7 linked regions of the Homo sapiens genome follow. The protein of the gene in region 3 purifies or fractionates together with the protein of the main gene of each other region. This does not show direct contact. Each region holds a gene or a part of one and is shown on either strand. Other genes may lie near its edges. The genes, in order: HNRNPR, NT5C2, CMTR1, MAP1B, PHF6, IARS1 and EXOC6B.

Region 1 (4,781 bases), on a different chromosome or scaffold from region 3:
AGGAGCTATATTACATTAAGCCAGAAATAACTAGTTTGTAGGACAATGCATGATTTATCTAAACTAATTTGTATACATGCTGCTAATAACCTCTATCAAAATAATAATTTATTCCTCCTGTGATGTATCTGACCTAAATTGGCAATAATAATCCTGTAAAACCATAGAAAATGTACATGGAAGCATTAGATCTTTAAGGAACTTCATGTACACCGGGTAAGATAAAGGCTTTAATTTACTGAAGGTAGAATTGCTGATTAACAAAAGCAGCTGTTCTGTCCTGGTGAAAAGATCAAAATCACTACAAAATCCTTTACTAAAAAGCCCCTCAGCTCTCGGGTCTTACACAGTTTTAAAAAGTTTTGTTTTAAAAACAGAATGAACACCCACAGACCACTTAATCAAGATTTAAGGACTTTCAAATTTTCCTGGCTCTGCTTCAAATACAGTATCGGTGTGAAATAAGTGCCCTGTTTTCTCTAGTTCAACATGCTGGTGGTTTGGGTTTTCTCCACCTAACAATACAAAACGAAAACAAAAAAAAACCAACTTGACATTAATTTTTGTTCTAAGATTAATTCGCTATTCCCACAGATTTAAAAGAAAAAATGACCAAGTTTAAAAGCGAAACAATTGTTTTCAGTCCAAATAAAATACTAAGTGAGCTATAGTTTAGGTTGCTTCTTAAAAAAAAAGAGTACATGTTGAAATTTTCATATCAGTAAAATAAAGATGTAAAAACATACTGAAGAATGGACAACTTCTTCCAAATATTTCAAAAACCGTTACCTAATTAGGCTAAACTTCAGCCAGATTTCTCAGATTAACCTATCAAAAATAATTTTGTACATTCAGCCTGTAGGTAATGCTGAAATGGACTGACTCCCTGAAGAGAGAGAGTAAACAATAAACCATACAAGGCCAGTCTGTGTACTGCCTCAAAAGACAGGGAATTAAAGTGCATTTGTCTGTGGTGAAATTACAATGTGATGAAGATAATAGGCAGCAGAACAAGACATTGCAACACATACTAAATAAAAGACATAAAGGTGGATCTCAAGAAAAAGCCTACTTTTCTTGATGAAACTCAAGATACCTAGTCATCTATAAAGAAAATACAAGTCTCCTACAAAGTACTAAGACACATAAGATAACCACACTTCCCGACAGCTTATCGAACATTGTGCAAATGCACCAGGTGCAGTTTTCTGGCTTAAAACAACTTCTTTTCATTTCAAAGTCCACTGATACTTAGTTGAAGTTAACGAAAGAGGGAGGAAGACCAAGAGGGGAAGGAGGTAATAGAGAGTAGGAAGAAGAAGAAAATGCAAAGGATTACTCTGAAAATGAGATAAACATGACTCCTCACAATTACAAAACACTATTAAGACTCGATAGCCCTTAATAGACGCAGACTGTGGTTAAATTCTGGGTGGATGTTTCTCAAGACAAGCTTCAAATTCTGATGAACTAGCAAAAACGGAAACATTCGAAATGTCACACTTTTGATCAAGAAACTGTATTGTGTGAGATGAATACGTTTACTGATTAACACGACCTATTTCTATAAAGATGCATCCTAAAACACAAAATCTCCTTGCGAACATAAGGTTCTGTTTTCCCATGCTCCCCCATCCCCACATACTACCTTAAGATCATCAGAACTCAAAAGTTCTCAGTATCACAAGACCCTTACAGCATTGTACCTAGGAATACTATCAGTCACAGAAAAGAGGCAAATTTTTAACAGAAAAGTTCAATGAACATCTGTTAAGGTGGGGTTTTTAAGTATGTGTAAAGCAAAAAGACAAGTTGTGTATTAAGTACAAGACAGAAATATTTATGCCTACCATTTCATTGCAAAGGCTCTACAAGTTGATACTGAAATTGGTTAAAATTTTCAAAAAAAGTTTGTAAATTTTAACAAAAAAACCGTAAAATAATTAGATTCCAGAAAATAAAACCTTCGGATCAAGGAAAGCCCTCTCTCTTCAAGCCAAATACAAAATGCTCATTTTGAAAAGACTTTTTATGTCATATGAGACCATTTGAAACTCATTCAAATGTGGCATTCAACACAATGCCACACAGCCAAACCATATTTCTGGATGCAGCAAATATACTAACGTGACTGGAGTCATTTGATCTAAACATTTTTGCAAAAAAAAAGGAGACATTTAAAGATTTAAAAGGGCTGCTGGGAGATTCGGGATGTCAGCACTAACTCCTCCCTGACTTTTTCTGAACCTCTCTGTGCAAATTCTTCATATTAAGAGACGGGCTTTAAAAGAACCAACGAAATGAGACTAACGGTTATCTCATGGCTTAGGAGTGTCGAGCTCTCATCCTACGACTGACTCATGAGACATCAATTCAGCCACTTGAGGACTGCAAAAATCTCAAACAGGTAGTGTGAAAGGACTGAACCTTCCAAGAAGCCCTGGGCTTTTTTAAAAATTTGGCAATACGGCCACTACCGTGTAAGAAAAAGGATCGCCTTTCCAATTTGGTGCGCCTCTGACAGTCTCAGAATTATCCATTTCAGGCGCCGCTTGGAGCCTAAGTTCTACGGCCTCTAGTAGTCATTTTTTCCTTCAAATCTCAGCCCGCGGCATGCAGAATGTGGGAGGGGAGGGAGGCTTCCCACACAAATCGGCCTTTCGGTTTCTGCTCACACAAAACTTTTCTCCCGGCTCAGATAACCCTGGGATCTGCACCCCGCCTTCCGCCCCCCACCCCCATCCCCTCAGGCCCGTCCGGATCATCAGCACATCCCTCTCGGGCTAGGCCGGCCGCGGCGGGAGCGAAGCGGCTCCGGCGGGGAGAAGCGGCAGGGCCGCGGGCGCCTCAGGCCCTTCGCGGGATCCGGCCGCATGGAGCAGCGAGCGGAGGCGGGAAAAGCACGGCCGGCCCCAGCAGGCCGCGCGGAGAGCGCCCAGCGGGCCGGACCGCGGGCTAAAGGGGCGGGGGGAGGAAGAGCGAGGGCGAGAAGCGTTTCGGCCGGGCTAGGCCCACAGCCGCGCGGGCGGACTAGACCGAAGCCGCCCCCAGCCCGTCCCCACCCCCACCCCGGGGCCTCGGAGCGCAAACGAAACGGGACCAGGCACGGAGCCCGGGCTGAGTCGGGTCGCATCGGGGCTCCCGGCCCCTCCCCCCACGGGCCGGCGCGAGACTCACCAGGGCAGAGCGGGGGCCGGCAGCCGGGCCCGTGAGAATCAGCGCGAGGCGCTTTGAAAACGACTAGAAATGGCGCGCGCGCCACCCCCTCCCCCCCCTGATGGACTGAGACGCGATCCCGGCAGCACGCGGGGTTTCCCGGAACTGCTTCCAGGGACTCCGAGCTACGGGGCAATCGCTTGGCGAGGCGGCCTGACAGGCAGCTCAGACGACCAGTAGTATCCAGGCAAAACGGACCACGCCGGACGACTCGAGAGCCAATCGATGAAGCTGCCGGCTGAACCAATGAGGGTGCTCAGCGCCCCTGGCTGGGGCGCCTCCGGGGCGGGGGCAGGCACACAAAGGGGTCTGTGGTGGAAGCCCTTGGTGGCTGCAAGGCTTGGGGGCGCTGGGTCCTGGGTGGACGAAGCTCCTCCCTCTTCGTCTGCCGCCGATGCGAGGCCGAAAATCTAGGCCTCGCGCCGCGTGGCCGCCTCCGGAGCCCCGCCCCCTATGGTCAGCACTGGCCCAGCTCCGCCATGGCGCTTGCGTCCCGCCACCGGCCGCCCTTAGCCCCCGAGTCCTCCCTCGCACCCCCGCGGCCGGCGTTCCCCCCAGACACGCCCATAGCCACGCGTTCGGGCCTCTTTCGGTCATCTTTTCGCCTCTAGTGAGCACACGATTTAAGGATGATTTGGCTCGTCATTTTGCTGAGGATTTTGTCTAGATAATCATTCCTTGGAACGATCGGAGAAATGCCTCTTTCCCTCCCTGGCTGCCGTCCACACATCGTTGGTGGCAGACTGTGAGGGAAATCGTTAAAATGACTCAAAAGCAATGTGTAACACAAGTGATAGAGCAGGGAGCTTTTCCCCACAGGGTTTGGAGCTACTTGATATTCATAAAATAAAGCAGCTATATACATCTCTGAAGCCAAAAGAGCCATGCAGGGGAAAGGGGTAATTCCCAAAGGACACTATAATTCGTGTTAGTCCTAAACCTATTTCTCACCTGCCATTCCTACTGATTTGTTCCCTGTCCTTAGTCCAAACCTGTCTCGTCTCATAGAAACCTTCCGAACTCACTTCTGTGGTGCAAGCGCTTTTTTCCCAACCCCAAACTCCAATGCCCCACCCTTAGGAAGTGGAGGAAGTCAAGCAGTGGTCTGCAGATTTCCAGATGCACTCAAGGATGATTAAATTTCTCAGAACCTACAAACCTATATTTAATTATTGAAAACGGGCGGGGCGTGGTAGCTCATGCCTGTAATCCCAGCACTTTGGGAGGCCGAGGCGGGTGTATCGGTCAGAAGTTCGAGACCAGCCTGATCAACATGGTGAAACCCTGCCTCTACTAAAAATACAAAAATTAGCCCGGTGTGGTGGCACGTGCCTGTAAACCCACCTACTCCGGAGGCTGAGGCAGAAAAATCGCTTGAACCCGGGAGGCGGAGGTTGCAGTGAGCCAATATCGCACCACTGCACTCCACCCTAGGGAACAACAGCGAAACTCCGTCTTAAAAAAAAAAAAAAAGAAAAAGAAATATTGAAAACGACTACTATGTGCCCAGTACCAAGTTAAATCTCTGGGTAGATCCAAGTTTTGTGTTATGGGGTGTGAGATTT
Region 2 (4,923 bases), on a different chromosome or scaffold from region 3:
TCCTGCCTCAGCCTCCCAAGTAGCTGGGATTACAGGCATGCGCTACCACGCCTGATTAATTTTTGTATTTTTAGTAGAGATGGGGTTTCACCATGTTGGCCAGGCTGGTCTCAAACTCCTGACCTCAGGTGGTCATTCACTCCGCTCTAATTGCAAAGAATCCATGTAGCATACTTGTAAACTGCTTACCAGAATTTCTCTTTCCAGTTTTATCTCAGACTACTGCTCTACCAAACCCTTTTAGTGAGAACAATCTATTAATCATACCCTCAATACATCCACTTCAGCATCTTCTCCCTACTCTGAAGTGTTACTGTTTTTCCTGATCCCACCAAGCTACATTAATATTCCTTCACTCTGAGCAAAAAAAACTAACATTTATAGAGAACTTAATGTGTGCCAGTATCACTTCAACTGAATTATTCTATTTAATCCACATAACTCTGTAAAATTTGTTCTATTTTTCCCTTCTCAAGGTGAGAGAAACTGAGTGAGCTTGTCTAAGGTTAACTGAGTTCCCCGAGGTTGCATGATGTTAAGTAGCAAGCCAGACTACAAAATCCGGGCCCTTAAATAAATGCAATGTCTCCTGGCTGAAAGTATGACTGCCTTTACTGCTCACGTCACTCAACATATGCCTTGTGATAGTTAGTATTTTGTGTTAAATGTCTAAAAACCTCAAAACATTACAACACTTATTCAACAAAAATTTACTAAGAGCCTGTGTGCCAGGCATTGTTGACTACCGGGGCACATTAGAGAGCATCTACTAATGAAGATTAGATGAATTCTCTAAATACATGGACATCCCAGAAATATTGGTAAGAGCAAAATCCCAAATAATATGTACACAGCAAGTGTACTAGATAAAAACCAGTCTATGTAAGTACTTTAAAAGAGCACAGTCATAACATGACAAAGTTGTGGGTTTTTGTTTTTGGGGATTTGTTGTTATTTACTATTTCACTGAATTAAGCTTTTGGTAAGAGAATTAAGCAACAGGGTCGGACGCAGTGGCTCAAGCCTGTAATCCCAGTACTTGGGAGGCCGAGGCGGGCAGATCACCTGAGGTCAGGAGTTCGAGACCAGCCTGACCAACTTGGAGAAACCCCGTCTCTACAAAATTAGCCAGGCGTGGTGGCGCATGCCTGTAATCCCAGCTACTCGGGAGGCCGAGGCAGGAGAACTGCTTGAACCCGGGAGGTGGAGGTTGCAATGAGCCAAGATCATGCCATTGCACTCCAGCCTGGCCAACAAGAGCAAAGCTCCGTCTCAAAAAAAAAAAAAAAAGAGAGAGAGAGGAAATACTTAAAAAAAAAAACCTGTGTTTTATGTACTCCTCTTTCCCCATAAAACAGGAGAAATAGCCTAGAGAAAGATTAATGAGCACCTCTGTGCCTAACATTCTATTGTAATCTGGCTTTCTTTAGGAAGATGTGATGTCTTCTGGTTAAGGGTGGCAGGTACTATAAGGGAATACTATCTATATAAATCTTCTTACAATTACAAACTTCTGAAAACTTGTAGCTGATGGTAAATTTTCATACAATGGCATCAAACCTTTGAACTGAAAGGAATCTTGCATAACATCTCCTTCAGAACCCCCCCCACTCCACCCCGCGCCCCTCCACCTTATTTTACAGATTTGTTGGTTACTAAATCCTAAAACCTTAATTCTGGGTCAATGAGAGTAATGCAGCTACCTATACTGTTGAAATGTAGTGGTTTACACTGCAATGGAAATGCACTTCAGAAATAAGTCTGTGTATGCTAGTATCAACCCTGCATGTGGAGTTTTTATTTTAATTACTAACCAGCTATGTTTTCTTGAACTTAACCTTTTTTGTTCTTTTTTTTTTTTCCACTCTCAGCTCACACCTATTTTTTTTCTCTTTTCGAACTTCACCCTTTCAGGCCTGGATGTCTTCATCTGGATAAATTCTAACCGTTGTTGAAAAGCCATGTGGTAAATATTTTTGAAACCTAAAGCCTTCTCTACGCAATAACACTAAGTTTTCATGGTAAATGACACAGTTTCAATATTCTCCCTTTCACATTATGGTCAGTAGTTTGCATTCGTTGCTTGAAGAGGCGAAATGAATAGTCTACAGACACTGGGAACCAAGTACAGCTCAATCCTGAAGAACTCATCGGCCCCTGGACGGGCGCGCACACACCCCCCTGTAATGGTGACTAGTCATTTCGGGGCGCTGTACTTCAGAGCACGACCCCCCTCAAACATCAAGGCCCTAAAGGTGAAAGCCCAGGAAAACGTCGATTCGGACAGCAGCCTCTACCTGCTGCTTTTAGAAGCTGTGGCCTGCCGGAGTCAAACCCCCAAAACGTTTTTCTTAAACTAAGGGTTCAGGCCTCAGATCGGCATCTCGCCCTCTCCGATTTCAGGAGCCCCGAAAAAAGGAGAAGAATAGGCCGCCACTGAACGGCTCAGCCCCCTGACCAGGAGCTGTCCGGATGTTTTTTGTGGCGGCTTGCAATTCGCTGTGACCTTTCCAGGAAGTGTTGCACACGGGCGTGTGGCAAACGAGCTGGCCGTTTCTCGCGGTCCTGCTAAAACGCTGTCAACCTGGCGCTCCACCAGAGGCCCCTTGGCTTCTCGGGAGGCGACCGAGGAGCTCTGGGGGCGGGGAGGCTTTTACAAGAAGCGAAAAGACGGCCTCAGGGGTGGCCGGGAACAGCCTGGAATCAGCTGGAGGACGTCAGCAGGACTGAGGAAAGGGCTACCACCAGCGTGAGGAAAGGGGGGAAGAGGGCGGAACGCGGCGAACGGCCGCGCTGGGAGGCTGAGGCGGGGTCCCAGCGAGCCGGCGGCTGGGAAACAATGGCGCGAGCGTGACGTGGGCCGGAGGCGTCGCGGCGGCGCGGAGGAAGGGGCTGCCGTGGGGCGGGGGCCGCACCGAGGGAGTTGGGAGGCGTGCGGCGTCCGCGAGCGCGCTGGCGGGGACTCGGCCTAAGGAGAGGGGCCTTGGGGCCATGGTCCCTGGGGGCCGGGGGCGGGGGCAGGCGGCGGCCGCTACCCTGGGGTCGCGTGTTCGGCCGCGCACCTCCCCACCTAGCTCCCCGTTCGCCCGCTCCTTCCCCGCCCGCCCACGGGGCCCGCCGCACTCACCGGCTCCAGCGCACCGCAACAATCCCAGCGCGCAACTGCCGCAGCCGCCTCAACGCGCGCCCTCCCCGCCCCCGCCGCCCGGCACCGCCCCGCGCCGCCCCTCTGCTCGCGCCCGGCCAGGGACCGGCGCGCTGTTCCGTCCCCCAGCTCCGCCGCAGAGTTCGGCGAAGCCGACGCTCCCTGACCGCGCTGCGTCTGTCTGTCCCGCGGGTCTGGAGATCTTCAAACGATGGAACACCGGCTTTGCCCTTCTGAGGGTCTCCATCCCTTGGCATTCTGCCTGCGCCCCTCAGCCTGGCCCTGGGCTAACCTCTCCACTGTGTCTCATTCAGAAGAAGCTTTTCCTTGGGAGGAGAGGGCATCCTTTTTCCCAGTCACAGAATGTTTTGGTCTAATGGACCTCAAGGCCCCTCATGCGTCCACACCCCCATGGCACCCTCGAATCCCCTTGATGGCTAAAAACACCAGCTTTGAAGTTTGTCAGAACGAGTTCCAGTCCCAGTACCACCACTTACAAACTGTAACCTCGGGCGAGGTACCTGACCTCCTATACCTGGTGCCCACATTTGTAGCACCAGGATAGGGAACAACAGTCCCCACATCAAAGGGTGTTGACGGGATGAAATCACACAATATAGGTGAGGCCCTCAGCAGGATCCTGGCACACAGTAAGCACTCAATAAATGTTCACCCCACCACCAGCAACTCAGCAGGAAGACTCCGCAAAAGCAGCTAGCTATTTCCAGAGGACTGAATTCCTTGGTCCGAGCAGCTCTCACCAGTGAGAAAATGTGTCTAAACTTCCACTCTCAGGGCCGAAATTCGATGCCTTGGAGCCACAGAGAACAAACGTCTAATCTCTCCTGGACCTTTGACTTTTCAGATACTTTACTTCTATCACCTCTGCCCAAGGTCTTCTCATTCCACATCAGTGTCTCCCGTTCCTTCCATTGTTCCTCCTCTGCCCTGGTTTTGAGGGTCTTTATCCCTCTCACGCAAATGGTAGATTTGACTGTGATTTCTTTAGAATACATCACCCAAGACTGAACCAAATGTTTGTGGTATCATCAGAGCAAAGCAGGACTATAGCTTCCTCCTTTTGGGACCTATCGCTTTGCACTCCTGCGATAAAGTTCTTGGCACCCATACTGTTGACTCATATTGGGCTTGCAGTCAACCAAAACCTCCGCGTCTTTTTAATAAGTGCTCCGCCAGAGCACTTCTACCCCTTCTTGTGCTTCTCAGCCAACTTCGCTTCAGGTCAGCTAAGGATAGACCTTGGGCCCCTCACCTTCTAAATTTCTCAGGATATATGGAAAAGAGGAATAGGGGTTGGAAGCTGGCATAACACAATCTTTAAACCAAGTGCATTTGAAAAAAGGCCAGGGTGGCGGGGCGTGGTAGCTCACACCTGTAATCCCATCACTTTGGGAAGCCAAGGCAGGTGGATCATTTGAGGTCAGGAGTTCAAGACCAGCCTGACCAACATGGCGAAACCCCATCTCTACTAAAAATACAAAAATTAGCTGGGCATGGTGGCACGCACCTGTAGTCCCAGCTACTCGGGAGGCTGAGGCAGGAGAATCGCTTGAACCCGGAAGGCGGAGGTTGCAGTGAGCCAAGATCACGCCACTGAACTCCAGCCTGGGCGACAGAGGGAGACTCCATCTCCAAAAAAAAAAAAAAAGAAGAAACGAAAAAAGGCCAGGGTTTGTGTCTAAACACTATGGTACTGAGAGAAAAACAAATATAGAGACACACACAAATGAATGTGATCACAACTGTGAAAAAAAACT
Region 3 (4,333 bases):
ACCCACCATGGCATGCTGGCTCCATTCTGCCTACAGCTGGGGGAAGGGTAGGGCTCTAAATGCAGGATATTTTTCTTGTCTCCCTCCCAGCTGCTCCTCAGCATCAGACTGGCCTCGGCTTCTGAGCAGGGTAAGATCCAAGGCATTGGGTGATAAGGCCCCTTGAACCTCAAACCCAGTGAGGCTGCTGCCATGGCACTCCAGCCAGGATCTGGCTTACCCCCCTTGCCAGTTGCTCCTACTGACTGTTCTGAATGTCACCATATAGATTTCATACTCATGGCTCCTGAGAAACAAGTCTCTTGTTTCCCAAGGGATCTCTGGTCAAAAACTAAATCAGCTGCTAAAAAATACCCAGTAGACTCACCAGGGCCCTCAATGCACAGAGACAATCGAGGTCTCCTCTGACGCACGGAGACTGCGCTCCTCCTTACCTGAACCACTGTGGCTTAGAGCAACTGCTCGGGGAGGAGTCATTATAAACCCTTACCCCAGCCCTGGGCCCTGTCAGCCACCACACAATGTAACCAAGTTAACTCAGGGCAAAAGGCCAGGTTCAGCAGCCCCCTAGTCCCCTAGCTGCAGGGCCAACACCTGAGCAGAACCATCTCTGACCTCCCCTTTCAGCTCATGCACAATTTCCACAGATAGCAGAGTGTCCCGGGGCAGCTCTGTCTTCAGGTCTAGCTTGATCCAGCGGTCTGACTGGCGGCCATCCCATGTGTAGATCTGGGATTTCTACAGGCAGAGAGAAACAGCCAGGTAAGGAAGGCATGGAGATCGAGGGATAAGAGGCTTACTTCTCAAAAGAGCTTTTAGTTGGCAGCTACAAACTGATGGGACTGGGAAATGTCAGAAGAAAATGTCTATGAGAGATTAAATCCATTATACTTTAGTGATAATGATAGTAGTGTTCTCCAGTGCCTCAGCAGAAGAGAAGCAGAGATCTGGCTCAGCCTTGGAACGGGTGCAGGGCACCACTCAAAAGACCTAAGTCCATAATTAGTGGCCCTCAAAAAAGATCCAGTTTCGTATATGTCTAAGGTGGGTTTAGTGAAGAGTCCAGAGAGCAGAGAAGGAGAGAGTAAGTAAAATGAGAAAAAGACAAAGTGTGAGAGGGTACAAAAGAAGTAACTGAGGAAGACAGGATCAAATTATATAGAAACACAAGTCAAGAGTTGAAAGAAAAAGCAATGACTTTACCCAGTTAAGTAAGATAAAGAGCTTGCCAAGGCTTTCCCTCACCTCACTTTAGACTCCAGGGGGCCCAGGGTAGGGACAGGGAGTATCTTTGCAAGACAGGGGATGGGATGGCATGGGGTGGTGGTGGTGTTGCAAAGGAATGGCTGCCTGGGCTCAAGCCAGATAAGCCTGCTGACCACTCTGCTAGCCTGGGAAGCTCTGTATCACAAGAAAAGTAGCAGTGTTCCCTTTAGCAATGCACAGAATTGAAGAAACAAATGAAAGAATGAATGAATGACACTTGGCAAACTCAGAGGAAGAAAGGAAACGAAGTTTCAAGAAATACCTTCACTAGGGTCAAAGCAACAGCTACTTAATGCCAAGAGAACATGTACCAAGTGTGGCAGGCAGCTGTCCAGATTCCGCAAAGGGCAAATCCACCATTCCAAGCTGGGCAGGAAGCCAGCTGCAGACTTACCCCCAGGCCGATGAGGAACTTCTGCTCACTGCCAGATACCATGCAGCGGTAGTCAAACACAGGGCGGATCTTCTCCAGGGTTTTAGAGGTGAGCAGTGTGGGCTTGTAGCTGAAGATGTCAATCTCAGTGCCCTGCAGCCACGAGTCAGAGAAAACACTGCCGGGTTGGGGGAAGGGACAGTATGGGTGCCTATCTGGGCTGGGGGCAGGCTCGACAAGGCAAGGGACAGGAAGCATTGGCTCTCTGAAATATGCTCCCCTGCACCCCCTTCTCTACCTAACTGTGCACTAAATGGGATCTATTTCCATCTGCTTGGAATGTTCCTGTAGGACCTATTAGGAGAGGCTGGAAAAGGAAAGAACACTGAGTCCCCAAGTACAGATCAATTTACCAGACCTATAAGAAAATGTCACCAGAATATAAAAGCTGCCCCTTCAATAAAACTCAAAGCAAGGATTCTCCAGCAGTTGGTTTGAGAACAGTTTAGTGATCTCTTTACCCCATTTAGAAAAATGTACACATACTATTCTTTTGAGGGCATCTTGAACCTCAGTCTCTACTCCCTGACCCCCACAAAACCAGCACAATTGCCCATGATCTGGGACAGATTTAAATGAGGCCCAAGTAAAAGCTGGAGGTTGAGTGGTAGAAGAAACAGGGCAAAAGAACTCTGAGGACCAGCTCACCAGAAATAAGACAAAGAACCTGGGGTTAGGCCAACCCTGCTGCGGGCTTCCCTGGCAGCTCCCTTCACCCTGTGCCCAGCTCCCTTGCCTAAGATCATCCCACACTCTATGTCTCCTTTGTAGGCAAATCCCACAGGACCCTGAACTTGCCAGGGTGACACAGCCAGAACCACCCTTTGGGTGGCAGGAATGCTGAGCCCAAGCACTGAACATGAGAATCTTCCGTTGGCCTGACTGTGCTCTTGGGGAATTCAACACCCTATACCAAAGGTTCCCACCTGTGGCAGCCTTAGCTCCGCCCCTTAGAGCCCATGGTGGGCATCTGCACAAGCCCTCTGGAGACCATGCATCTGGGGCCTCAGTGATACCATCCACATCTAGAGACAGATCTCTAACTTTTTATGTCCACCACAGATACCAGTCTTACCTGGATTAGCTCAAAGAACTTCGATTTAGGGTCGGAGGAAGAAGGAGCCACACGAGCCTGGTCTGGGATCTGAAATAAGACAGCAAAGAGCTTTGACTTTCAAATGCCCTTTTGACCAAGACCGTGTATGAGTATATGCAGGTGGAGGAGATAGGGTCAGACTGGGGAGGAGGAATGGCACACAACAAAGGAGGCTAGGCTGACAGGGATGGAGGTGGATAATTCACTCACTGCTCCCTTTCAGATCCTGTGGCAATGGACCCCAAAGGCTACTTCCTTTTCTCTGGGGCTCTCTGTTGTCAGTGCTGCTACAAGGGGCCACCAGTTGCAAAACTGACACCGGCCCACCTCCCCACACCCCACCCCTTAGTCCTTTCTGACCCAGCTGCAGGGCCAAACCAGCAGTGAAAGGGCCAAGGACGTAACTACCAACAATGCCGAGATGTCAACCTCTGGGATGCTGTGAGGGTAGCAGATATTTTTGGATGCAGAGACACCCTAAGGTGACAGGATTGGGAGTCAACCCCATTCTTCTCTATGGCTTCCCTGCCCTGAAGCAGCAATGGGCGGGGGAGATACTCACCCCCCAGAGTCGGAGGCACTCCTTCCGTATCTCTGCCTGTCGAGGCTCACTCAGTGTCCTGGGAATATGAAGCCAGTTAGTGATTAAAATCTCTAAGAGGCACAGGAGTGCCCCCTGTGCACCCCTCATATCCCATAGAGAGGAGGCCTGAATGAATGAACATGTGAGTGTACACACAGACACTATGCTGCCACTGGCCCAGCGTGATTACAACACATGCAAGGCTCTCCTTTTGAAGACAGGAGCTCAAACATACACGAAATGGGATTACCTGCCCTTCTCACCACAATGGGAAAGGAGAAAGTGCCCTCCAGACGACCTGGATGCCAGGGTCCTCCCCGACACCCTTTTCAATCACCCATCAGCATGTTCTAGCTCCTCTTCTGCTGACACAGGCCACACTAAACCCATCCCACTGGATGTCACCATGCCCCACAAAGCTGAATTAGCTTATGTTCACCCCCTACCCGAGGTTTCTCTGATCAGTCCTACCTCTCCTCTCTTGATCACTCTTTACTCTGTGTCCCCTGAACATTATGTATTCTACTTGTGCCATGCCACTCTACACCCTCTGATGCACTGTTAATAACCTTTCCTGTATCCTTTTCCTGGGTTACTCTTATCTGCCCAAAGACAATGTAAAGTATTTGGGGACAAAGCTCATGTCATATGCTTCTCTGGCATCCTTCAGAGACCATAGCAGAGTATGAGAAAAAAGCAGGTGTTTTAAAATGTTTGTTGAAATGAAAAAAACAAACAGCTTGTGGGGAGGAAAAGCAAGATCTTCCCTTGAAATAGGTGGTTTCTGAAAAGTGGGCAACACTCACGTGTCTTGAACAAAGGCATGGATTTTCGCCAGAGCTTTGATCTGCAGACTACAGTGGCTAGAAGAAAAAAAAATTATTTGATCTCAGGATTACCAAAAAAGACAGGTAACTGACATCAGGACAGAGAGGTTAAACGGGAGCAGTGGCCA
Region 4 (3,500 bases), on a different chromosome or scaffold from region 3:
TTAAAATTGAAAATGGAGGATCATCGCTAACATTTAGTCTCTGTAGAATTTTGTTTAAGAATACTACCAAAAAGGTCATGATCATGAGTGCTATCTCGATAGAATCCCATCATTTAAACAGAGTGTAAATTCCTTCCACTCAAATATTCAATCTATACAATTGGATTAAGTAATCAGTATGAACAAAGCTCCTAGAAGTCTGTGTCGATCTTTAGCTCTCACCATGAATGTACATGGTACATTGTGATGGCTGTTACTAAACTAATCGTGTATTTATGGAACTAGCAAAATTAGGTTAGTCACACAGGCAGGAAAGGTGTCTGGAAGGACAGGAGCAACCTGTAATGCGAATATTGGTTTTCTTGGTATACTCAGGCTCTGTGGTCATATTGAGAACAACGGATGGAGAAAGGTACTGATAGATTTCATAGGAAAAAGAGCCAGCTGACTAGTGACAGTTTTTACATATTTTTCCCATTAAATCCCATAGCAAAAAAAAAAAAAAAAAAAAAGAGAGAGAGAGAGAGAAAGTGAGGAGGGTGGAGTGGTTATAACTGAAGACTGGCTATAATTCTCCTACAATGTTTATAGTTTTTAAAGCAAAATAATGTTCAGGTTAAATACATTTAATTGTGAAATTGGAAAATAACTTGCATCTTCTGTCAAAGAAAAATCAACCAGAGGTCTGGATTTGGCAAGAAGGCTAAAAATCTGGTTTTCTTCCCACGCATTATGTAGACCAATTCAACTTAAGAGCTAACCATTAAATAATTATCTTGAGTATCTTAGGTTGTGTTATAAAATAAATTTGAAGTAGATGAGTTTATACTCAATGAAATTCATTGGCGTCACAATGACTTTTCCATCATGTGTTAATTTCTTGTACCCTTAATATGTTATTTTCCAAGGACTTGAAAGAAATGGGGTAATAAATAAAAGCTGCATTTCTAGAGAAGCCTAACAAAAATAGAATATTAATTTTCTTTAAAAAATTAAACATTTGAAAAATGTAATTCACAGCATTAAGTAGACTGCATAGGTCCTCAGTGAAAGGACCCTGAAGAAGCATTTTTTTAAACCCTCATCATAGTTAGCAGTGCAAAACATAGACTTATCAGACAAAAATCAACTAAAATGTTAATTTTGAAATAAATAACTAACATAGAAAATAAAATGAGGTCATTGTTCTCTACTCCGTAGATCTTAGAGTCTGCAGGAAATGTAATGTGACAGAGCACAGCACAGTTGTCACGGAGAAGTTTGCCTCATCTGAACACTGGGTGCATTGATCTGCAACTTGAAACTTGATGTCAGTGTTAATCATGATCTGGCTTCCCAGGTTCACAGTTCAATGATGACAATGATGGAAATTTTCTCTAAACTCTACATGAACCGTAGGAGTTGAGAATTCATTTGTTTTCAATGTACTATTTCTTTTATTTTTTTTTTCCAGAAAAGAAAATCCCAAAGCAAATTTGTGCTAGGGTTCTTTGAACTTGGCTCTTTTACCTCATGGTTGAAGATCTTGAAAGAAGTATGTAGGATACCACTGGGTGATGTACTTGTCAAGGCCCTGAAAAGTAGCCTACCATGCCATTCTCCCCCACTCTCAAGTAGCACTTTTATGTTATGGGAATCAAGGGGTGGGAGGTATCATTATTCCTGGTAGTTATGGGTTTTTAATAAATATCATTACTGCAATATCAGACTTCAATCTTGCCAGAACTTCAAAAAACATTATTCAATTTTTGTCTTACGAAACACTTAAAAAAAAAGACTATCACTTGAGAATTTTCTTTGCAATTTCCTGTAAATGAAAACATTTGTTAAAAAGTTCATCTATGAAAAGTTCTCACATATCTTAAAAAAAAAATTCTTCTGTACACTTGTTCCCATAATTATGTTGAAATTAATGGAAAATTTAAAAAGCCAATGTAAGACAAAGGAAGGTAAATACTGTACACTTGCTGAGAACCTCTTCCACCATAAGATTCACTGTTTTCCCAGTTCTGATCATAGAAGCCATTTCAGTCTTGAACTTGCAGTAGTAAAGAAGCTGTGAAAGGCACAACTTGTTTGACTGAGAGGCCACAGGTGCACTGAAGTGGGATTCAACACGCATGACTCAGCATCAAACTGTTGGACCAATCAGATCAGCTTCTAGTACCCCCACACACGCTCACCCACGTGTTCCTTTAAGTATCTATAATCCTATATGGATGTTTTATAAACTTGCTGTCTCACATTAAAAAATAAGTGCATCAAGTATCTTTGTACATTCAAGTCACTTCCTAAGGCAAATTGTCTACCATATGTACTCCCAACTGCTTTGGTATTTGCTTCAGTTAATTGGGGTGGACTTGGGTGTTGCTGCATGCAGGTTAATCGACTCAGAGTGGACTAAGTGGGTGGACAAATGCTGGGAGCATGCCTTAGATCAATCTACTTGTGTGTTTAGAGTCTGAGAGTTCTGAATGGGGCCCAAACCACTTGCATGGCCAGTCTACACTCACTACATTATGTCAGTGTGCAGCCTTCAAACTGAAGGAGCTTAATTAAGATGTGAAAATATCACATGCCCTCATAACAAGTGTTGTTCTTTTTACTTTCTTCTAGCCAACTTGTTTTAGAAAATTAAGACTCTTTTTGATGACTCAGACTGACAAAAATGGAAAACTTTGCCTATGTAGACTAAAGAATGCCTACTGCCTGAGAAAATGCAGACCTAATTGTTGGTTTATTTTCTCCTCCTTACCCCACCCTGCTCTCTCTTTTTCTCTCTGGGTATCTCACCAGAACTCTCTGTCATTACATCTCCTTCTCTTGCATTCCTTTTCTTTCTCATTCTTTCTCTCTCTCTCTCCTGCGTTATCTTTGTGCTCTCACTCTCTCTCACTCTCTCCCGCGCTCTCTCTCTCTCTAAGACAAATGCCTCTACCTAGCAGAAGTCAGTTGGGTTGGCTAGTGCATGGTTTCCAAATGTTCAGCAGAGATGAACTGGGGTAGGTAATTTTGCAGGAATTTGAACCCTATTGTGGAAATACTGTTATTTCCCTTAGCAATCAGCAAAAACTGAGAAATTTAGTGACTTGCATCACCATGACACAGTATAGCATTTGGCAGGTAATTGTTCAGCGACTTAACTAGATGAATTGACTTTTTAGAAAAGGTGATTTCAAATTGAAGAATTTCTGGAAACAAAGTTCAGATCCTGTGGTGTGGCTGGCCTTGGTTTTTACAGTTCAATCTTGCATGCAGGGAAGGATTCATCTTGCATAACCACTGTGCTGCTGCTTGCTAAAACCATGATGTTGAGATCTTGCTGTTTCTCATGGGTCTCCTGGTACCATTCCCTCATCACTTCTGAGTCATGAGTTGGGATCAGTGTCACCTGCAGGGAGAGAAAAAAAAAATAGCTATTTAAGGGCAGAAACAGAAACCATATGAAAAAAATTGAATAGCAAGGTATTAGACCACTGGAAGAAGAAGGGAAATGAGAG
Region 5 (4,333 bases), on a different chromosome or scaffold from region 3:
GATTAAGATCTTCAATAATAGAGTATGTTTGCAATGACATACTTACTGAACAGTACTTTGTAAGGCACAGTGTTACTCTTCAAAAAAAAATTCTGTCTAGAATGAATTGATTGATAAAATTTATGTATTTATAATCAGCCATATAATGGAGTAAAATGATAAGAGCCAAAATGAACAGTATATATCTTGAGTCCCATAGGAGTTTAGAGAAAAAGGATTATTTTAGAGGTTGGAATATAGCATGGTAGACTAAGATAATTTTCCCTTTTTGTATTCATAGGTAAGCAAGCAAATGTAAACATTGTATTTTGGCTTTATTATGGATAATTTTTGCTATTTTGTTAGTACCTTGCCAGAAATTTGACTGCTTGTATGTGAATGCTGCATAAAATAGGTCCTGGGAATTCTAATTTAGCAAAATTCCAACTCCTAACCTTGTAAAGAAGTTTCCACTCCGAAAATATTTTTTATTGGTATGTCTTCCTCTTTCTTGTCTTTCTTGAGTGAAACTGACTATAAAAATAAAGTAAGCTTTAAAAAAATTATCTGTCCTGAGTTGCTGTAGTTAACTGGTTATTTGCAAAATGCATGTATTTCACCATAGCAGCTTAAAACCAGTTACTTTGGGCAGATTTAAATTTATAACCAGCCAAAAACTATTTTGGTATATTTTGGGTTTTTGGTTCCCATCTTATTCTCACCAGACTGAGAGACGGGTATTGAAAGCATTTACTAGAGTTTTCCTAATTTGTTTTTTAAATAATATTTTTGCATATAAAAGTACTTTTGCCCATTGTAGAAAAATCAAAATACAGGGCATTATGAAGAAAACCAGCCACCCAGAGATAGCCACTTAGCATTTTGCTGTTTTTACTTGCACCTGTTTTAAAGAATCTATGTTATAAACATAGTTGGGTTCATAATTCACATAGTTTTGTATCCTGCCTCATTTTTTTTAACTTAACATTACACATAGATCTTCCTGAGCCATTCCAATTTCTTTGAAAAGAGTGGCTGTAGAACATTCTCTCATATGTGTATACTATAATTTATTTAAACATTTTTCTTTTTCTTTTTTTCTTTTTTTTTTCTTTTTTTTTTTTTTGTGATGGAGTTTCACTCTTTTTGCCCAGGCTGGAGTGCAATGGTACAATCTCAGCTCACCGCAACCTTTACCTCCCAGGTTCAAGTGATTCTCCTGCCTCAGCCTCCCGAGTAGCTGGGATTACAGGCATGTGCCACCACACCTGGCTAGTTTTGTATTTTTAGTTGAGATGGTGTTTCTCCATGTTGGTCAGGCTGGTCTTGAACTCCTGACCTCAGGTGATGCGCCCGTCTCAGCCTCCCAAAGTGCTGGGATTACAGGCGTGAGCTGCTGTACCCGGACCTAAATATTTTTCAATTGTTGATAGGTGGTTTTACATTTTAGACTGTTCTAAATAATTCTACAATGAATGTGCTTGTGCATTAATTGCTTGAGTGTGATTATTTTTTAGACTAGGTTTATAGAGTAAAATTACTGGCTTAGAGAATACAAATTTTTTAAAAACCTTGTTGAATAAGGCAAATTGCATTCTAGAGAGTATGTACCAATTTCCAGCTGTATACAACAGTGCCCATCTTAACTGTATCTTGTCAATGTTGAGCTCAATATAGTATTTTAAATGGCACCTCTCTTTTCAGTTTTGCTCGCTAATTGAATTTAATATATTTTTTTCAAAATGTACCCATCTAAACCTGTTTTGGATGTAAGTTTCAAGATAAACTACTTTCCCTAAAGTTCTTAGTGAAGTGGGATAATGTTTGATGCGTTAAAAAAATAGATTGCAAAATAGTATGTGTAGAATTACGTTTCACTAAGCATTGTAACACTGTGAGGCATCTCTGCTTGGTGAGTATGAGTGATTTAAAATTTTTCTTTGTGCTTTTTTGTTTTCCAGAATTTCTTTAATATAATAGAACTTTGTAATTAAGCTACAGTTCAAATGCTGTACCTCCTTAAGAATTTATAAGCCATCCAAAAGCTTTGCCTTCTTGATAATTTGGCATAGTATTTCTTTTTACAGTAATACTTTGAAGTTTCTGTATTTATTTAAGGAAGAAAGGGGTATTTCTTGTATCAATAATGGGCACTGGCCCTCATGTTTTCTGGGAAACAGCTGTAGTGAGACTGTTTCTGTTTCTGACATATGAATATTTTTTAAATGATAGCCTGAATGAGAGTTTTAGTGTTTGACTTGCTTAGAGAAATGTAAGAAATTTTATTGGAATTTATATTAGCCTCTTGGTACACCAATATTGCTTAGAGGCCGAGTAATCCAAAAGTTAGGAATGCTAAGTGTTCTTTATGTTCAAATTAATAAAAAGAGGGATGAGAACACTTTAGAACAAGGTGTCCAGCAACCAAGAAGCAAATGAACAGTTTTTTAGATTTAGCTTGTTGTGAATCTATTTTGGCATGTCATGTACAGTTAAATGGCCTCATTATAAAAGTTCACTTGGTACAGTACATTATGATATGTTAATCAAAACCACTGAAAGTCATTGTTATGTAACTTTTTAAAGATAACTTTTTTCCTAAATGTAGAGCATGAGCTAGTTAATCAATATGAATTATCCATTAAATTCAAAAGGTAAGGTATAATAAAATACATTGAAAGAATCTGTTCTTTTATCTGTTTGCCTGAATTCATAGTGCAAGAGGTAAGTGACATAGATTAAATTGAAATACTGTGCATATTTTCATAATATAATCAACTTGACATCACAAAATAGTCTCAGAGCTCAAGGTATTAAAAAAACTACCTAATTCTTTCACCTTGTCTCCTTCCCTCGCTTTAAATGGATTTTACTAGGTTCTCAAATAGTAAGTTATGTGAGATATTTTTCCCACAGAGTCTCATTAATTAAGTGGATTTTTTTTTTTTTTTTTAGACGGAGTCTCGCTCTGTTGCCCAGGCTGGAGTGCAGTGGCACGATCTTGGCTCACTGCAGCCCCCACCTCCTGGGTTCAAGCAGTTATGCTTCAGCCTCCCAAGTAGCTGGGATTAGAGGCATGCGCCACCACACCCCAGCTAATTTTTTTGTATTTTTAGTAGAGATGGGGTTTCACCATATTGGCCAGGCTGGTCTCAAACTCCTGACCTTGTGATCTGCCTGCCTCTGCCTCCCAAAGTGCTGGGATTACAGGCATGAGCCACCGCACTTAGCAATTAAGTGGAAATTTTAAGGAAAACTTTTTTTTTCTGGTATGAGACATTTTCTCCAGTTACTTGTACCTAGGAAGATCTGGATTACATAAAAAGTCTCTTTTATAATGTTATATACAGCTCACATTCCTGAATTACAGTATTTCAAATTTTCTCTTGACCATAATGAAACAATAGACATTAATAACATTCTGTTAATTTTGTCAGTGTTTAACATGGGAAAAAATACCCCAGAAGAATTTTATTCCGGTTATTCTAAGGAGAGAAAACAAGAAAAGTAGCATTAATTACAAAACTTTTCAATAACCAATTTGTTTTCCTTGACAGAAATTGATATGCCTCTAATCTGATATACAGCCTTAGAAAGTCACATACTAATAATATTATTTTGTCGTTTTGCTGTAGATGTGTTCTTTGTGCCATTGTCCTGGAGCAACAATTGGTTGTGATGTGAAAACATGTCACAGGACATACCACTACCACTGTGCATTGCATGATAAAGCTCAAATACGAGAGAAACCTTCACAAGGAATTTACATGTAATTATTTAACTTCTCTTTAAGTTTTTTTTTTAACAATAATACTTTCTTTGGGCTTTTGTAAAAATTTTTCCCATTTCAAAGCATTTCATCATCATCATAAAGGGTGTTTTTGATAAGAAATTTAATACTTAGAGAAATAGTACAGGAAGTTTAATAATATATTTTGAATCCAGCTAGTGAATTGGGTGAAGTGTACTGCTCGTTTTCTTAATTTGAAAAGTGAGTTTAATTTAGTTTGCTTACTAATTTTTGATTTCTTCATTTTTTATAGGGTCTATTGCCGAAAACACAAGAAAACTGCACATAACTCCGAAGGTACATCATTTAGCCACGTTTCAGCCACTTTTCAGTTTCAAGAAGAAATTTGAGTACAGATTAGTGAATTATACTATATTAATTTTAACCATAAGACATATCTCAACATTCAGTACATTTAGAAGAATTGAGAAAAGTGTTAGGATAAACTAATGTGCATAGTGAAAAAGATCTGAACTTCTTTTTTTTTTTTTTTCCTGAAACGAAGTCTTGCTCTGTCGCCCAGGCTGGAGTACAGTGGTGTGATCACAGCTTACTGCAACCTCT
Region 6 (4,333 bases), on a different chromosome or scaffold from region 3:
AGTAGCACACTTTCGGCTCACTGCAACCTCAACTTCCTGGGCTCATGTCATTCTCTTACTTCAGCCTGTGGAGTAGTTGGAACTAAAGGTTCACGCCACCACGCCCAGCTAATTTTTGTAATTTTAGTAGAGATGGGGTTTTGTCATGTTGCCCAGGTCGGCCTCCAAAAGTGCGAGGATTTCAGGTGTGAGCCACTGTGCTTGGTCAAGTCAAAAAAATTTTAAAAACCCTTGGTTAACAATCAATATACAGACCGCGTAGAATAGAGGTCAGCAAACCATGGCCCCTGGGCCAAATCTGGCTCATCACTTGTTTCATACAGTGGGTGAGTTAAGAATGGTGACAAAATTGAGAACACTTTGCCTGAAAAGCCTAAAATATTTAATTTGCAGAGGAAAGTTTCCCAACCTCAGTATTAGAACTAAAAATTAAGTATACTCTGTGACTCACCTGGGCGTGGTGGCTCACGCCTGTAAAAATACCCGCACTTTGGGAGGCTGAGGCAGGTGGATCAACTGAGGTAAGGAGTTCAAGACCAGCCTGGCCAACATGGCGAAACCCTGTCTCTACTAAAAATACAAAACTTAGCTGGGCATGCTGGCGGGCACCCGTAATCCCAGCTACTCGGGAGGCTGAGGCAGGAGAATTGCTTGAACCTGGGAGGAGGGTGCAATGAGCCAAGATCACACCACTGTACTTCAGCCTGGGCATCAGAGTGAGACTCCGTCTCAAAAAAATAAAAATTAAAACAAAGTATACTCTGACTCGATAATTCCACTACTTGTTATATAACCAACTGAAACGTGTACAAGACCTAAAAGACAACAGTCACCATGTGTTTAAGTCTTGGTAGATCCTGATTTAAAAAAATAAATAAATAAAAATAAAATATAACCCCTTGGGAAATGATTAAACCATTAGAAATATGAACTGATGATGTTCAGGAATTACATAATTTGAGAATATTAAAATAAAAACTATTAAAGGTGGCTAGGTGCAGTGGCTGACACCTGTAATCCCAGCACTTTGGGAGGCCAAGGCGGGTGGACTGCTTGAGCCCAAGAGTTCAAGACCAGCCCAGGCAACATGGTGAAACCACTCCTATAGAAACACATAAATTAGCCAGGTATGGTGGTATGTTCCTGTAGTCCCAGCTACTCAGGGGGCTGAAAGGGGAGATCACTTGAGCCCGGGAGGTCAAGGCTGTGGTTAGCCGAGATCGTGCCACTGCACTCTAGCCTGGGTGACATAGCGAGATCCTATCTCAAAAACAACAACAACAACAAAAAGGTAACTGCTGATGACTTTTTAAGGTGTGACAACGAATGCTAACATGGCAATGTTTAAAGAAGATAAAGATTATTTATGAAAGATCTATACTGGATTATTTCTTGATGAAATAATATGATATCTGGAATTTGTTTCAGAATTGGAAGGAAAGTGGGAAAGAATATGTGTATGAATGAGGCAAGATTAGCCAGTCATTGGTGCTGGGGGCCTTAATGGGCCTACAGAAATTAATTATACCATTCTGTTTACTTTTGCATGTCCCTGAAACTGTCCACATTCAAGTGTTTTAAAAAACAACCAAACAGGCCGGGCGCAATGGCTCACAACTGTAATTCCAACACTTTGGGAGGCCAAGGTGGGTGGATCGCAAGGTCAGGAGTTCAAGACCAGCCTGGCCAAAATGGTGAAACCCTGTCTCTACTAAAAATGCGTGGTGGTGGGCACCTGTAAACCCAGCTACTCCAGAGGCTGAGGCAAAGAACTGCTTGAATCGGGTAGGTGGAGGTTGCAGGGAGCCAAGATCGCGCCACTGCACTCTAGCCTGGGCGACAGAGCAAGACTCTGACTCAAACAAACAAACAAACAAAAACCAAATATAGCAATATATTAAGATTTGACAAAGGTAAGCCTTGGAAACCTTGTGTTTACCATATCATTCTCTACATTGTTAAGTGCTTAAAATATTTTACTAAAAAAATACAAACATGAGCACAGAGAGGTGGTAAGGAGATAATAGAAATCATCATACCTGCCTTACAAGGATTTACAAAGATCAATCAAACAGGATATGTGAAAGCATTCTATAAATAAAACGTGCTTTGAAAGGCAAATTTTACTAATGTAATTTTCAAACCTAGGCCATGAAACAAGAATTCCAAACAAGTCAACATCCTTTAAAAACAGAGGGTCAGATAAACTCTCAAAACTGAAAACAACTCAGTATACACACGAGAAGAGATGGTTCACATTTCAGAAGACTTACTAGTATATAATATCTGTCTAGATATGGTATAACAATACACTCTGTAAACATCAAACATGTCTAAACACCTCAATCATAGCAACAACAACAACTGATTCTATCTCATCAGAGGAAAAATAATACCATTTGGCATCTCAAATTAATTTTTTTCCAAATACCGTTAACAAATAAATGATATCATGAGGTCCCAGATAAGGCATAAAATTACTCAACCCTTAAGAAACGATGACTACAGGAAGTATGTCAAAGCTGGACTTGTTAACCCAACAGAGAGGCACAAAAATATGGTCAAAACAAGCAAAACCTATCACATTAAGACACATCATAAATCCAATGTGGAAAAAAAATCCCTCATCTTAACAGAGCCTTAGTATACTAACTGGCAATATTTCCAGCACTCAGTAAGAAGTGGTCAAAGTGGTGGATGTCGTGGGCAACATTCCACACTGGGTCTACTTGGGAATACCTACTGTGATCATAACTACTCAGCTTCCACCTACAAAACTCAATGCTGAATAATGTCTCTACATTTCACGTACCTTATAATTCTGGTGTGACTCGAAGTTGGAAAGTGGAGTGTTACATGCCGTAGAGAAGGGCATGACTTTCACACCTCTATAAACAAGGCCTTTATCATAGAGTTGTTTGAAGACCCACCTGGTAAGAGATGGAGTTTCACAATTACAGAACAAAATTCTATTTCTGAAAATGCAAACATTTATGCCATTTTCTTTTTAGAGTTTCTGTCTGCCAAATAAGTGAAAAAACAATGTCTTTCATTGGGAGACTGGCTGGTAAATTATAACAGATCAATATAGTAAGACATCAGGCAGACATTAAAATGCTAATATCTACTGATATCGAATGATATTTAACACATAATGTTAAGAAAAGCAACTGGCAGGCTGGGCGCAGTGGCTCACGTCTGTAATCGTAGCACTTTGAGAGATCAAGGTGGATGGATCACCTAGGTCAGAAGTTCGAGACCACCCTGGCCAACAAGGTGAAACCCCATCTCTACTAAAAAGACAAAAATTAGCCAAGCATGGTGGCGGGCGCCTGTAATCCCAGCTACTTGGGAGGCTGAAGCAAGAGAATCGCTTGAACCTGAGAGGCGGAGGTTGCAGTGGGCCAAGACTGTGCCACTGCCCTCCAGCCTGGGCAACTGAGCGAGACTCAGTCTCAAAAAAATAAAAATAAAAGTTCTACATTCAAAAACAAACCTGTTCCCAAAGATTTTCAGAGAAATAACGATGGACTCAAAAATAAACTGATTCATGCTAGTGCATTTTTCCAATTATCAATACAACAGAATAGAATATTTACCATATTTACAATTTTAAATAAACCTACCAGACTGATTCCATGAATTGTGGATACAGAGTTTTATAGTCATTGTCAAAGTCAATCCATCGGCCAAGTCTGCTAACAGTAGACTTTAAAATATTAATATTAGAACAGTATTAGACAATGATATTTATAATTGTACATCAATGTGTGTTTATTTCTGTTGTCATCACAAATGAAAATTTTGGGAAAACAGAATAATCAATGGTACAAGTAAATCTATACTGCCAACAACATATTATGTAAGGTTAAGAACCAGTTTTCTCGGCATTCATCCTACATGCACAAAATGTTATTTACAAGTATAAATATTCACTTATAAAAGTCTACCAAAACCACCACTTGGCAAATATCACAGGCATAATTATTACTGGCAAAAACCATCCATGGATGTTAAAATTAATAAGTGAATGTATGACAAAAAAAAGAATATTTGGAAAGAATCTCCCCACAAGATACTTATTAATTACAAAGGAAAAACTACAACTTTACAAAGCAGAAAGCTGACAGCACTTTAACCAAGTGAACAAAGTTATCACCATCAATGTGACATAGCCGCAACACATGCCACCTGATATAATGCATTGAGAAGGGCATAGCATCACTTCTGTGGCATTGTCACCAAAAATGCATAACCTAAATTAAATCAGGAAACCTCACACATTGAGAGACATTATAGAAAATAGCTGTTCTGCAATCTTCAAAAGTGAGAA
Region 7 (4,333 bases), on a different chromosome or scaffold from region 3:
AAAAGAAAAAAGAAAATATCCCCCTTATAGAAAAATAAGCAAAAGACATACACAAAAGCCCTTAAACATATTATTGTGAGATTTTCAGCCTCACTCACAATAAGAAAAATAAAAATAAAAACTACACTGAAACACTACTTATCACATCATATTGACAAAAGCCCAAAAGTCTTTGGGTTGTTGAAAAAGCTACGGAGAACTTTATTGAAAGAGCTACAAAGAAATGAGCAATCTCATAGACTGCTAGAGGGAGAACAAAATGGTACAACCTCTAAAGTGGGTAATACCTACCAAATTCCAGATATATTCATCATTTTACTTAGCAATCTTACTTGTGGGAATCTATCCTATAGATACAGTACGAAATGTACAATAGGCCTAGCGCAGTGGCTCAGGCATGTAATCCCAGTACTTTGGGAGGCCAAGGCGGTCGGATCATTTGAGGTCAGGAGCTCAAAACCAGCCTGGCCAATATGGTGAAATCCCTTCTCTACTAAAACTACAAAAATCAGCCGGGCGTGGTGATGGGCACCTGTAATCCCAGCTACTCGCCAGGGTGAGGCAGGAGAATCGCTTGAGCCCGGGAGGCGGAGGTTGCAGTAAGCAGAGATTGCGCCACTGCATTCCACTCTGGGAGACAGAGCAAGACTCCGTCTCAAAAACAAAACAAATAAAAAAAGAAATGTGCAATAAAAAATGACCAATATTCAAGGCTATCCCTTCCTGCATTATTTTTTCTGGCAAAAGGCTGGAAATAATCCAAATATCCAGAAACAGAACTAGTTTAATAAACCATGATATATTTACATAATGGAATACTATGTAGCTATTTAAAAAAAATAAGGAAAACCTCTATATACTGATATGGACAAATCTCAAAAATATATGTATAACTAAAAAACTAAGCTGCAGAAGTCTATACAATAACACTATTTATTTTGTAAAAAGGAGAAAATAAGATAATATATGCTCCTATTTGCATAAGAAAGCAATGGAAGAATAAACAACAAACGAATAAAATGGGGAAATAGAAGGAATGAGACAAAAAATGTTTGTTAGATCTATGATTCATATCCTTTTCTTTCCACTTTTTAAATAAAATATTTCAAACCCACACAAGATAATTTACCTATATCATTTTTTATTTTCAAAATTACAGTAGATAAGATTTCCAGGAGCTCAGGTTCCTCAGAATTACATATTTGATCTGATGATAACTAACAAACTCTTGAAATTTAATACAGGAATACTTAGCAAATGCTACACTCCCATTTAATTTCTCTCTATGGCTACTAATTTTTCTGTGGTGTGAATCTAATCAATCAGATAACAAATCAGCATAACCTCCACTGGAAGAGCTTCAATGAAAATTGTTGTCTATTTAACTCAAACAAAATCAAACACAGAGCCCATTGCTAGCTAACTGAACCAAATCAACATTGTCTTATTAGCCACAGATTCTTCATAATTTTTTCATTTTTCCAGTTTGCTTGATAACTCAATGAGGACATTTTTTAAAAACAAGTTTCTCTTTATCAAACCACAAAAAAATTTATTCTCCTATTCCATATTGTAATGAAACTTATTTAACATTATCCACCCCTTTTTACCCAAATGTACAATTTCAACTTTTTGCTAAATGTTAAGCTTTATTTATATAACATGCACTCAGATCATAATGCTTTCATCATTAGAGTTACTATTCTTAAACCTGCAAACTTTTGACAGCACTACAAAGAACACTGAGGAATGACAGGCTTTTTAAAAATTATTTTAGATTACACTTCTGACTGATGAAGAGAAAGAAGAACTATAAAGTTATATGTAGTTATAAAAAACATTTCTGATATGTAGAGGCTTTTGAAATTTTCATTAGTTTTATTTTCTCTCAAAAAGAAGTCATATTTTTAAGACAGTTAATCTGCAAATCAGTTAATTAATTCCCAGATAATTAACAGTTGGTGATACAATTTTTTAATTCTTCTATTCGTTCAACAAATATTTACTGAGCACCAACTATATGCCAGGCACCCTTTGGGTTCCCAGGATACAGCAGCAAACAAAAGAAACAAAATCCCTTCCCCCCTTGAACAGACATTCCAACAGGGTAGACAATCAAAAATAAAATGTCAGGCTGTAATAAGTTATTCAAAGAAAAGTAAAGTTCCTCCCTTTATTGTTCCCTATCCCAATAATTGGCATCACCATCATCTGATTGCTTAGGCCAAGAGCCTTGGAATCATCCTTGATCCTCTCTTTAATTCCCATAACTAATCCATCGTTTTGGCACTACCTTCAAAACATATTCTAAATCCAGCTACTTCTCATCACCTCCTCCCTATTACCATATTGCATGCCATAACCATCTCTTGCCTCTTATTACTGCAAACATCCCCTAACTGGTTTCCCTGTTTCCTCTCTTACTCTGTCTCCACACAGCAGCCAGAACATTCCTTGTTTGTTTGTTGTTGTTGTTGTCATTGTTTTTGAGACAGAGTCTCGCTCTGTCGCCCAGGCTGGAGTTCAGTGGTGCGATCTCCACTCACTGCAACCTCTACCTCCTGGGTTCAAGTGATTCTCCTGCCTTAGCCTCCTGAGTAGCTGGGATTACAGGTGCCCACCACCACGCCAGGCTAATTTTTGTTTTGTTTTCTTTTCTTTTGAGACGAGTCTCGCACTGTCTCCCAGGCTCGAGGGCAGTAGCGCGATCTCGGCTCACTGCAAGCTCCGCCTCCCAGGTTCACGCCATTCTCCTGCCTCAGCCTCCCAAGTAGCTGGGACTACAGGTGCCTGCCACCAGGCCCAGCTAATTTTTTTTTTTTTTTTTTTTTTTGTATTTTTAGTAGAAACGGGGTTTCACCATGTTAGCCAGGATGGTCTCGATCTCCTGACCTCGTGATCCGCCCGCCTCGGCCTCCCAAAGTTCTGGAATTACAGGCGTGAGCCACCGTGCCAGGCCATTTTTGTATTTTTAGTAGAGACACGGTTTCACCATGTTGGCCAGGCTGGTCTTGAACTCCTGGCCTCAAGTGATCTGCCCTCCTTGGCCTCCCAAAGTGCAGAGATTGCAAGCATGAGCCACTGTACCTGGCCACATTCCTTGTTTAATCTAAGTGACCACATGTCACTTTCCTGCTCAAAACTCTCCTGTACTTTCCCATAATGCTCAGAATAAAAACTCTCCTGTACCTTTCCATAACATTTAGAATAAAATCAAAGTCTCTTTCTTAGTCTACATGATCTGGACCCTGACTACTTTCTTACCACCACTTCCCACCGTTATCCTTTTCCTGAGGGCCTTGGCACTTACTGTCCCCTTTGTATGGAAGGTATTTCCCTCACAGAGAGCCATATGGCTTGTTGCTTCACTCTATTCAAACCTTTGCCAAAGCTACCTTTCCTAATCCCCTAATTGAAAGCAATAACCCAGTCATTATGTAACATTAATCGCTAAATAGCACTACATTATATATTTATTCATTTATTCTGTAAGTGCCCACTCCGGACTCTATAAGCTCAATAAGGATAGGGACTTGTCTATATTGCTGCCTGCTGTACCCCAGAGCCTGGAAGAGTATCTGGCACATAGACATTGCTCAATATTGAATGAATATATGAATGAATCAATTCATTAATAAAGCCACTAAAGTGACATCATTATAATGTATAAACCTGTATATAACATGTTAACTGAAAAAGCAAGACACATAATAATCATCTAATATTTAATATAATAACATGCATATAAAAAAGTTAAGAGGAAATATAAAAATATAAAAGTGGTGGAAAGGTAATAGAATTAAGTTATTTGTTGTTGTTTCTTCTTAAGTCATTCTATTACATTTATAATTAAAATATAAAAATGTCATTTTTAAAAGGGCACTACTATTAAAAAATAAGCATGAGCAATGGGAATGTTCTTCCCCTCAGTGATTGTCAAGGACGGAGTATATCACAATCACCTGAAGGGCTTTTATATATTTATTTCCTATCTCCTCCTCCTTTCTCTGCTCCACCCCAAAATAACCCCTCCCAGGATTGATTATTGATAAGTATTATATCCCTTAGATATGTGGGACCAGGAAAAGGAAACAAAAAAAATAGGCTAACCACTAAACTAACAAAACTCAAAAAATAGAAATACTTAAGTCCACATAGCAAACCCAAGGGTAAAGGTGGAAGATGACTCACACTTGAGTGACCAATGCCTAGCAGGTACCATGGCACCCCATCTACATTGGAGGAAGAGTATGAAAAGAAAAAAGAGAGAGAGAGAGAGAAAGCATCATTCATGCTACCTGCTAGGCAGTAGTCCTAGCTTGGTACCTTGCAT

The links.
Region 1: the proteins of CMTR1 (region 3) and HNRNPR purify together in Homo sapiens (affinity purification with mass spectrometry, with the first as the bait; one large-scale study listed by BioGRID). This does not show direct contact.
Region 2: the proteins of CMTR1 (region 3) and NT5C2 purify together in Homo sapiens (affinity purification with mass spectrometry, with the first as the bait; one large-scale study listed by BioGRID). This does not show direct contact.
Region 4: the proteins of CMTR1 (region 3) and MAP1B purify together in Homo sapiens (affinity purification with mass spectrometry, with the first as the bait; one large-scale study listed by BioGRID). This does not show direct contact.
Region 5: the proteins of CMTR1 (region 3) and PHF6 purify together in Homo sapiens (affinity purification with mass spectrometry, with the first as the bait; one large-scale study listed by BioGRID). This does not show direct contact.
Region 6: the proteins of CMTR1 (region 3) and IARS1 fractionate together in Homo sapiens (co-fractionation; one large-scale study listed by BioGRID). This does not show direct contact.
Region 7: the proteins of CMTR1 (region 3) and EXOC6B fractionate together in Homo sapiens (co-fractionation; one large-scale study listed by BioGRID). This does not show direct contact.

Annotation. Positions count from the first base shown.
Region 1 is NC_000001.11:23,341,034-23,345,814, forward strand, and holds the start of HNRNPR (heterogeneous nuclear ribonucleoprotein R), read right to left. Parts: upstream 3,252-4,781; 5' UTR 3,178-3,251; exon of another isoform or gene 2,541-3,177; coding exon of another isoform or gene 2,478-2,540; intron 1-2,477. UniProt on the Homo sapiens protein: Component of ribonucleosomes, which are complexes of at least 20 other different heterogeneous nuclear ribonucleoproteins (hnRNP). hnRNP play an important role in processing of precursor mRNA in the nucleus.
Region 2 is NC_000010.11:103,190,109-103,195,031, forward strand, and holds the start of NT5C2 (cytosolic purine 5'-nucleotidase), read right to left. Parts: upstream 3,165-4,923; 5' UTR 3,128-3,164; exon of another isoform or gene 2,298-3,127; intron 1-2,297. UniProt on the Homo sapiens protein: Broad specificity cytosolic 5'-nucleotidase that catalyzes the dephosphorylation of 6-hydroxypurine nucleoside 5'-monophosphates.
Region 3 is NC_000006.12:37,470,929-37,475,261, reverse strand, and holds part of CMTR1 (cap-specific mRNA (nucleoside-2'-O-)-methyltransferase 1), read right to left. Parts: intron 4,242-4,333; coding exon 4,185-4,241; intron 3,416-4,184; coding exon 3,358-3,415; intron 2,844-3,357; coding exon 2,775-2,843; intron 1,793-2,774; coding exon 1,661-1,792; intron 739-1,660; coding exon 616-738; intron 1-615. UniProt on the Homo sapiens protein: S-adenosyl-L-methionine-dependent methyltransferase that mediates mRNA cap1 2'-O-ribose methylation to the 5'-cap structure of mRNAs.
Region 4 is NC_000005.10:72,204,975-72,208,474, reverse strand, and holds part of MAP1B (microtubule-associated protein 1B), read right to left. Parts: intron 3,392-3,500; coding exon 3,236-3,391; 3' UTR 1-3,235. UniProt on the Homo sapiens protein: Facilitates tyrosination of alpha-tubulin in neuronal microtubules. Phosphorylated MAP1B is required for proper microtubule dynamics and plays a role in the cytoskeletal changes that accompany neuronal differentiation and neurite extension.
Region 5 is NC_000023.11:134,389,887-134,394,219, forward strand, and holds part of PHF6 (PHD finger protein 6), read left to right. Parts: intron 1-3,614; coding exon 3,615-3,748; intron 3,749-4,022; coding exon 4,023-4,066; intron 4,067-4,333.
Region 6 is NC_000009.12:92,282,910-92,287,242, forward strand, and holds part of IARS1 (isoleucine--tRNA ligase, cytoplasmic), read right to left. Parts: intron 3,710-4,333; coding exon 3,627-3,709; intron 2,931-3,626; coding exon 2,813-2,930; intron 1-2,812. UniProt on the Homo sapiens protein: Catalyzes the specific attachment of an amino acid to its cognate tRNA in a 2 step reaction: the amino acid (AA) is first activated by ATP to form AA-AMP and then transferred to the acceptor end of the tRNA.
Region 7 is NC_000002.12:72,815,502-72,819,834, forward strand, and holds part of EXOC6B (exocyst complex component 6B), read right to left. Parts: intron 1-4,333. UniProt on the Homo sapiens protein: Component of the exocyst complex involved in the docking of exocytic vesicles with fusion sites on the plasma membrane.